Homo sapiens: one gene and its partner. The protein of the gene in region 2 purifies or fractionates together with the protein of the main gene of each other region. This does not show direct contact. Each region holds a gene or a part of one and is shown on either strand. Other genes may lie near its edges.

The links. The genes of interacting proteins can lie anywhere in the genome.
Region 1: the proteins of TMEM192 (region 2) and STK11IP purify together in Homo sapiens (affinity purification with mass spectrometry; 2 studies listed by BioGRID and IntAct, with this or other methods). This does not show direct contact.

Annotation. Positions count from the first base shown.
Region 1 is NC_000002.12:219,600,855-219,604,603, forward strand, and holds part of STK11IP (serine/threonine-protein kinase 11-interacting protein), read left to right. Parts: intron 1-380; coding exon 381-586; intron 587-786; coding exon 787-861; intron 862-1,133; coding exon 1,134-1,229; intron 1,230-1,613; coding exon 1,614-1,721; intron 1,722-1,850; coding exon 1,851-1,922; intron 1,923-3,749. UniProt on the Homo sapiens protein: May regulate STK11/LKB1 function by controlling its subcellular localization.
Region 2 is NC_000004.12:165,099,132-165,102,880, forward strand, and holds part of TMEM192 (transmembrane protein 192), read right to left. Parts: intron 1,762-3,749; coding exon 1,497-1,761; intron 1-1,496.

The DNA.
Region 1 (3,749 bases), on a different chromosome or scaffold from region 2:
GGAGGAGGCTGGTCTCAAGCTGGGCGGTGGAAGGGGGTGTCTCATAACAAGAGAGAACTGTGAACCAAGCTGGCTGTATTTCCAGCACTGTCAGTAGATGAGGCTCTTTTGAGCAGAAGGTGAAAGAAAATTTGGAAGAGTTGGTTGGAGTTGTGTAGCCAAGCAGTCTCATCAGGCTGAATGAAATGTTAGGACTTTTTTTGAAGATGAGGGGAGCCATTGAATGCTTTTGAGCTGAGAAGGAGATAGAAAATTTGATCCTGCAATAGAAGATCTACAATATGGATTGGAGTGGGTATATTTTGGCATCATAGAGCCTTAGAATAAAGAGAAAAATCTTTTCACTGTGTCTTCCCTCCTGTTTGCCCCTTTTTCTGCAGGGGATGTGGTCCTGTCTGGCTGTAGCACCCTGAGCCTGCTGACTCCCACACTGCAACAGCTGAACCACGTATTTGAGCTGCACCTGGGGCCATGGGGCCCTGGCCAGACAGGCTTTGTGGCTCTGCCCTCCCATCCTGCCGACTCCCCTGTTATTCTTCAGCTTCAGTTTCTCTTCGATGTGCTGCAGAAAACACTTTCACTCAAGGTTCTGGGTGTGGGGAAGAGGCAGGATGTGCAAGGAGCCCAAGAGAATGATGGAAGTTGGGGATAGGGTAGGGGTGCAGAAGTCTGCAGTGCCAGGATCCAGAGGGTGTCAGAGGTACCAGTGGTTGTGCTAAGGAAGGAATGTTGAGGGCAGGAAGATCTGCTGTGCCTCAGTAAATTGAGTTTTTTTTTTTTTTTCAGCTGGTCCATGTTGCTGGTCCTGGCCCCACAGGGCCCATCAAGATTTTCCCCTTCAAATCCCTTCGGCACCTGGAGGTATGGGGACACGGGGGGATGTTGGTGCACAGCACCCAACTTGAGGCAGCCCCTTGGGGATGGGAAAGAGAAGAGCCTCTTTGGTGAGGAGGCCAGGCCTGAGTATACCCATTGCTCTGCAGTCATGTGATATCCACTGTCTTTCCATTTACTGCTTCCCTAAATCATAGCTGGGCTTTGTGGTCTTCTCCCTCCTCCCAACTAGGGGATGGGGATGAGGTCTTTGTCTTCTGTGGGGTTCTGCCTTCCTCCCTCCTCTTTCCTTGTCCCAGCTCCGAGGTGTTCCCCTCCACTGTCTGCATGGCCTCCGAGGCATCTACTCCCAGCTGGAGACCCTGATTTGCAGCAGGAGCCTCCAGGCATTAGAGGTAAGGAGAGTGAGGGGTGAGCTCAGACACCTCAACTTGAGAGATGTAGAAGACCAAGCTCTGATGTTCTCCCCTCTCTGCAGCTCTCCCTGCCTCCTGCTTCCCTCTAGACAGTGTCCTCACTCCCTCTCTGTGTTCCCGCAGCACTCTGTAACTGCCTGTATATTTATAGTCGTACCTACCATATTATATTACATATTCTAGTGTCTACCTTCCCACTGTCCCTACAGTGAGTTCTTGGGTCAGGGACCTGGGCTTTAAGCCTGTATCTTCAGATGGAGTTCAGTGTATAAAAAATGAATGAGTGACTGGGTGGTAGAGCTTGGCCTTGGCATAGGGAGGAAGGGGAGGGTGGGGTAATGAAGCACCCATCTGTCTGCTCAGGAGCTCCTCTCAGCCTGCGGCGGCGACTTCTGCTCTGCCCTCCCTTGGCTGGCTCTGCTTTCTGCCAACTTCAGCTACAATGCACTGACCGCCTTAGACAGCTCCCTGGTGAGTGCCTCAGAGGGAAGAGGGTTTCGAGGAAGGGCAAGGCCAGGCCTTTGGGGAGGAGGGCCAGCTGGTTGACCAGATAGTATTGTAGTGAACATCGATTCTCTGCCTCCTCCCCGTCTCTCTCAGCGCCTCTTGTCAGCTCTGCGTTTCTTGAACCTAAGCCACAATCAAGTCCAGGACTGTCAGGGATTCCTGATGGTGAGTATGGGCAGTTTGGCAGCTGGCACACCATGGGTCTTTGATTGCTCTGCTCTCACTCTCTCTCCTTGACCAGCTTTTACTCCCACCTTGCTCTTGCCATGAGGGTGGAGCTGCATTCTGGGAGATAGCACTGCTTAGACACTAGCATCAGACAAACCAGAGTTCATATCTCAACTTCTAATACCTGTGCAACTTTGAGCAAGTTAGTTACCTCTTGGTTTCTTTACCTGTAAAGTAGAAATCACAAGAGTACCTGGTTTTTTTTTTTTTTTTTTTTTTTGAGATGGAGTCTCGCTCTGTCACCCAGGCTGGAGTGCAGTGGCGCAATCTCAGCTCACTGCAACCTCTGCCTCCCAGGTTCAAGCAATTCTCCTGCTTCAGCCTCCCAAGTAGCTGGGATTACAGGCACGTGTCAACACACCTGGCTAATTTTTGTATTTTTAGTAGAGATGGGGTTTCACCATGTTGGTCAGGCTGGTCTTGAACTGCTGACCTCAAGCAATTCACCTGCCTTGGCCTCCCAAAATGCTGGGATTACAGGCATGAGCCACCACGCCCGGCTGAATACCTGCTTTTATAGTATTAAAATGATTGTGAAGAAGTACCCAATGTTGCTTAGTCTAGTGCCTAGCTCAGAAACTGGTAGCTTTTGTGATTATGATGAAGAACCTTTCTTCTGGGTCCTCCCATCCACCTGTCAGAGATAAAGCCGAACTAGTTAAAGTGGTAAGGACAGATTTTTTTTTTCTTTTTTTTTTTGAGGCAGAGTCTTGCTCTGTCACCCAGGCTAGAGTGCAGTGGTGTGATCTTGGCTCACTGCAAACTCAACCTCCTGGGTTCAAGCAGTTCTCCTGCCTCAGTCTCCCGAGTAGCTGGGATTACAGGTGCCCGCCACCATGCCCAGCTAATTTTTGTATTTTTTAGTAGAGATGGGGTTTCACCATCTTAGCCAGGCTGGTCTTGAACTCCTGACCTCATGATCCGCCCACCTCAGCCTCCCAAAATGCTGGGATTACAGGTGTGAGCCACCGTGCCCGACCAAGTAAGGACAGATTTTTTATCAGTGATAAACTATTGCAGCGGGGAAGAGGGTGCAACCTGAACTGAACGCCACTTCAATTTGTGCAGAGGTGGCTGGGCATTTTAAAAGGAGAGTGAGGGAATAGGAAGGGGAACTGTGAGGGCTTGAGCAGAGTAAGGGAAGTGGAAATGTACGAAAAGCAGAAGTGGAGGTTGATTCACATGAAGCCCTTCTGGGTTTGCTAAAAGTTAGGCTCCTACCTTCCCACAGAGACTGGGAGATGGGAGCCCTGTCATCAGGTGTTGGCTAGAACAAATGGGAAATTCTTTTGGCAGCCTTGACTTTTCCCAGGCAGGAGCTTAAGGGGGCTAGAGTCACCATTCTAGGGATGCATCCTTGAGATATTAGAACTTTGCTGTTTTTGTTCAGGTTTTTTACTGTGGGGGTTGGAGGAGTCAACAAAAATAATTTGTGTTGAATTTTGTTGAACTTGTGCTGAACAAGTCTGCAGTTCTTAACAGGCCAAAGTTGAGGCCTAGTCAAAAAGAAGGCCCAGAGGAGCCTGAGTAGGGTTTGATCAAGGTGAGAACCTCCTCTAATTCAGGGAAAGAAGAGACACTCCTCTTTCCCCTGAACAATATAAATCCTTTTCTTCCTTGATCACCTTTTGTTCACTAAAAACCAACTGAGCCATTTATTGGGACTTGGTAGTGGATGAATTTTGCTGGATGGTGAGAGTGACCAGGCATTTAATGGGGGACATTTCTATGGAAACAAAAAGGGAAACAAAGATGAATGGTTGG
Region 2 (3,749 bases):
TCTCACTCTGTCACCCAGGCTGGAGTCTGGAGTGCAGTGGCATGATCTCGGCTCAAGCAATTCTCCCACCTCAGCTTCCAGAGTAGCTGGGACCACAGGGGCACACCACCACACTTGGCTAATTTTTGTGTTTTTAGTAGAGAGGGGTTTCTCCATGTTGCCCAGGCTGGTCTCAAACTCCTGACCTCAAGGGATCTGCCCACCTCAGCCTCCCAAAGTGCTGGGATTACAGGCATGAGCTACTGTGCCCGGCCATTTACTATAACTTAATGCCAAATTTACCTAAAGAAGTTCAATTTAATTCCATTAAATCTTTAAAATGTCTGCAACGATAAAGAAAAGCAAGTACTCATGCATTCTAAGTCTCATGTGGACCTTCTGATCTTGCCTTCATAAATTAGGACCTGTGTGTTTTCCAAGTTTTCTGTTTGATATAATGCATCTCACTGCCTAACAGTCCTCTATCCTAGGAACTAACCATTACTGTCTCCTACTGCAAGAAAAGCACTGAGCTTCATTTTTAAAAAGTTCCCACCAGGACTGGCTCACACCTGTAATCCTAGAGCTTTGGGAGCCTGAGGCAGGAGGGTTGTTTGAGGCCAGGAGTTCCAGTGACCAACCTGGGCAACATGGTGAGAACCTGCTTCTACATAAAATGTTTAAAAAAATTAGCCGGGTGTGGTGGCATGCACCTGTAGTCTCAGCTACTCAGGAGGCTGAGGTGGGAGGATTGCTTAAGCCCAGGAATTCCAGGCTACAGTGAGCCATGAAGGCCCCACTGCCTTTCAGTCTTGGGTGACAGAGCAAGGCCCTGCCTCAGAGAAAATAAAATAAAATTTAAAAATTCCCTCTCCCTATCCTCAGAAATGTCAAATAGCAACAGCATTTCTATCTTTATGAGATGAGTAAACCACCTGGTAACAAAAGAGGGTATAATTCCACACTTCACACATGCTATGAGGACACCATGTTCATAACAAATAACAGATTTCAAATGAAAATTAAGGCTATATATTTCATAATAAAAGTTCTTTTTTTTTTTTTTTTGAGATGGAGTCTCGCTGTGTTGCCAGGCTGGAGTGCAGTGGCACAGTCTCAGCTCACTGCAACCTCTGACTCCCTGGTTCAAGCAATTCTCCTGCCTCAGCCTCCTGAGTAGCTGGGATTACAGGCATGCACCACCACGCCCAGCTAATTTTTGTATTTTTAGTAGAGACGGGGTTTCACCATGTTGGCCAGGATGGTCTCGATCTCCTGACCTCGTGATCTGCCCACCTCAGCATTCCAAAGTGCTGGGATTATAGGCGTGAGCCACCGCACCCGGCCAAGAAAAGCTTTAAGACATTAAGGTGATCCAAATTTTAGTGGTCAGAACACACATCAACCTTACAAAAATGAGAGAATATATTTGATTCTAAAATCAAACTTCATATATTCTTTCTGCTGTCATTTTTGTCCCTCAAGCACCCAAGTAGCTGAGAGAAAATTGGACATACCAGAGGACTGTATCATCAACGCAAGTCTCTTGAGATGCCTTGTTGATCGGTAGATCAAGTTATAGCCTCGGTTTCTGATTTTGCTGTGGTGATACTGGATGTAGCATTCAAGGAGTAAATGGAGAATCCACAAAATAACTTTCCCAAGGATTATAACCGTCTGAACTTTCAATGGGTTTGTGTAATTTCCTGGGCACTTGTCCTCATTTGGATTAGGATAAGAACAAAGCACACCTGTTAAAAATGCTAAAACAACAAACACGAGCTGGGGGAAAGGAGAGCAGAAAGATTAATATTCAATATTTGTAATTAGGAAGCAATAACTACCATCCCAGCATACATTCTTTTTTTTTTTTTTTTTTTTTCTGAGACAGAGTCTCACTCTGTCGCCCAGGCTGGAGTGCAGTGGCGCAATCTCGGCTTACTGCAAGCTCCACCTCCCGGGTTCACGCCATTCTCCTGCCTCAGCCTCCCGAGTAGCTGGGACTACAGGCACCCGCCACCACGCCTGGCTAACTTTTTGCATTTTTAGTAGAGACGGGGTTTCACCATGTTAGCCAGGATGATATCGATCTCCTGACCTCATGATCCACCCACCTCAGCCTCCCAAAGTGCTGGAATTACAGGTGTGAGCCACCGCACCCGGCTTCCCAGCATACATTCTTATACCTACAGCTTCCCCTGTCCTATTTTTATAAATGAGTTTTTAAATGTATTTTCGTTTTGTTTTGTTTAAATGTATTTTTGTTTTCTGTGTGAGATACGGTCTTGCCCTGTTGCCCAGGCTGGAGTGCAGTGGTGCCATCTCTGCTCACTGCAGCCTCAACCTCCTGGGCTCAAGCGATCCTCCTACCTCAGTCTCTGGAGTAGCTGGAACTACAGGCCTGTGCCACCATGCCTGGCCAATTTTAAGAAGTTTTTATAGAGACAGGTTCTTGCTATGGCACCCAGGCTGGTACAGAGTATGTTACACAAAAAGTAAAAGGAAAGAAGAAAAAGAGGTCACCATCTGGAAACCACAAGGCCACCCCTGCACATGGTGGTACCAAGAAGAAAGCGCTTCAGCTGGGATCTGGGGATCAGGAAGCCATGGTGGAGCCATACCACAGCTACTAGTTCCCTCAAGGAAAGGGGATACCACCTCTCTCCCCAGTGATTCAGTTCTGAACTCAAGTCTCCCACAGTGCACTTCACTGGAGAGGAATCCCAGCTGCAGGGGAAGCCAGGAAATGTGCTGAGGGATACGGTCCCTGCAGACAGGCAAACCTATCAGTAGGAGGCTGAGCAGAGGCTGAGCAAGTCAATCAACTCCATTCACAGTCCTCGTAAATACTCAAGGAGTGGTGAGAATGAGCCCTCTTGATTTTTCACATTGCAGCAGAGAACAACTATAACCCCTAGTGCTTCCAACTGCAATCGTCGAAAGGGAGGAACTGATTAAACAGACTGGCAGTGGAGTCACCACCAGTGAGGCCTGCGATAAGACCTTTTGCACATGTGTTTTTATAAACTCCAGATAGTTGTAATTTTGTCATCATACAAAAATTGTACATATTATTCCACTGCAACTTGATTTGTCTGCTAAACATTATTCCCTAGGTATAAGTAAATTGATAAATTCCTGTGTCAACATATGTAGACTTTTCTGCATCTTTTTTGTAACTGAAAAAGTAATACAAGCACATGGTTAAAAAATCAAGTAGTATTCAAAAGTAAACAGTAAATTATATTAGTGTCTCTTCCACCAAGACCCTCAGTCCTCATTTCAGAGGCAACTAGGTCTGTGAATGCTTCTAGAAATATTCTATTATATACAGGAAAACAGGTCCACAACAGCCCTCTCAACTCCCTTTTAAAAACTGCAGATAGGAACATTCTGTACACAAGGTTGAAAACTTGATTTTTTTTCACTCGACAATGTAATCATGAAGGCTATTCTATGTTAATATACTGTATACCTATCCACCCCATTCTTAACAGTTGCATAGCATTTCCTTATATGAATGGGACACACAGTGTCTTCTGGATGCCAAGTAGCCAGGTAGTTTGTAGTCTCTTGATATGACAGACAACATGGCTATTATCAACAATATCTTTACATGTGTGCAAATATATCCACAATGAATTATTTGAAGATATAAGTAAAAGTGTACGTACTTTTTTTTTTTTTTTTTTGCCCATGACACAGCACTCAGGATGTCCTAAGAACATGTGCCCTACATTTTAAATGTTGATAGATACAGCACAACTGCC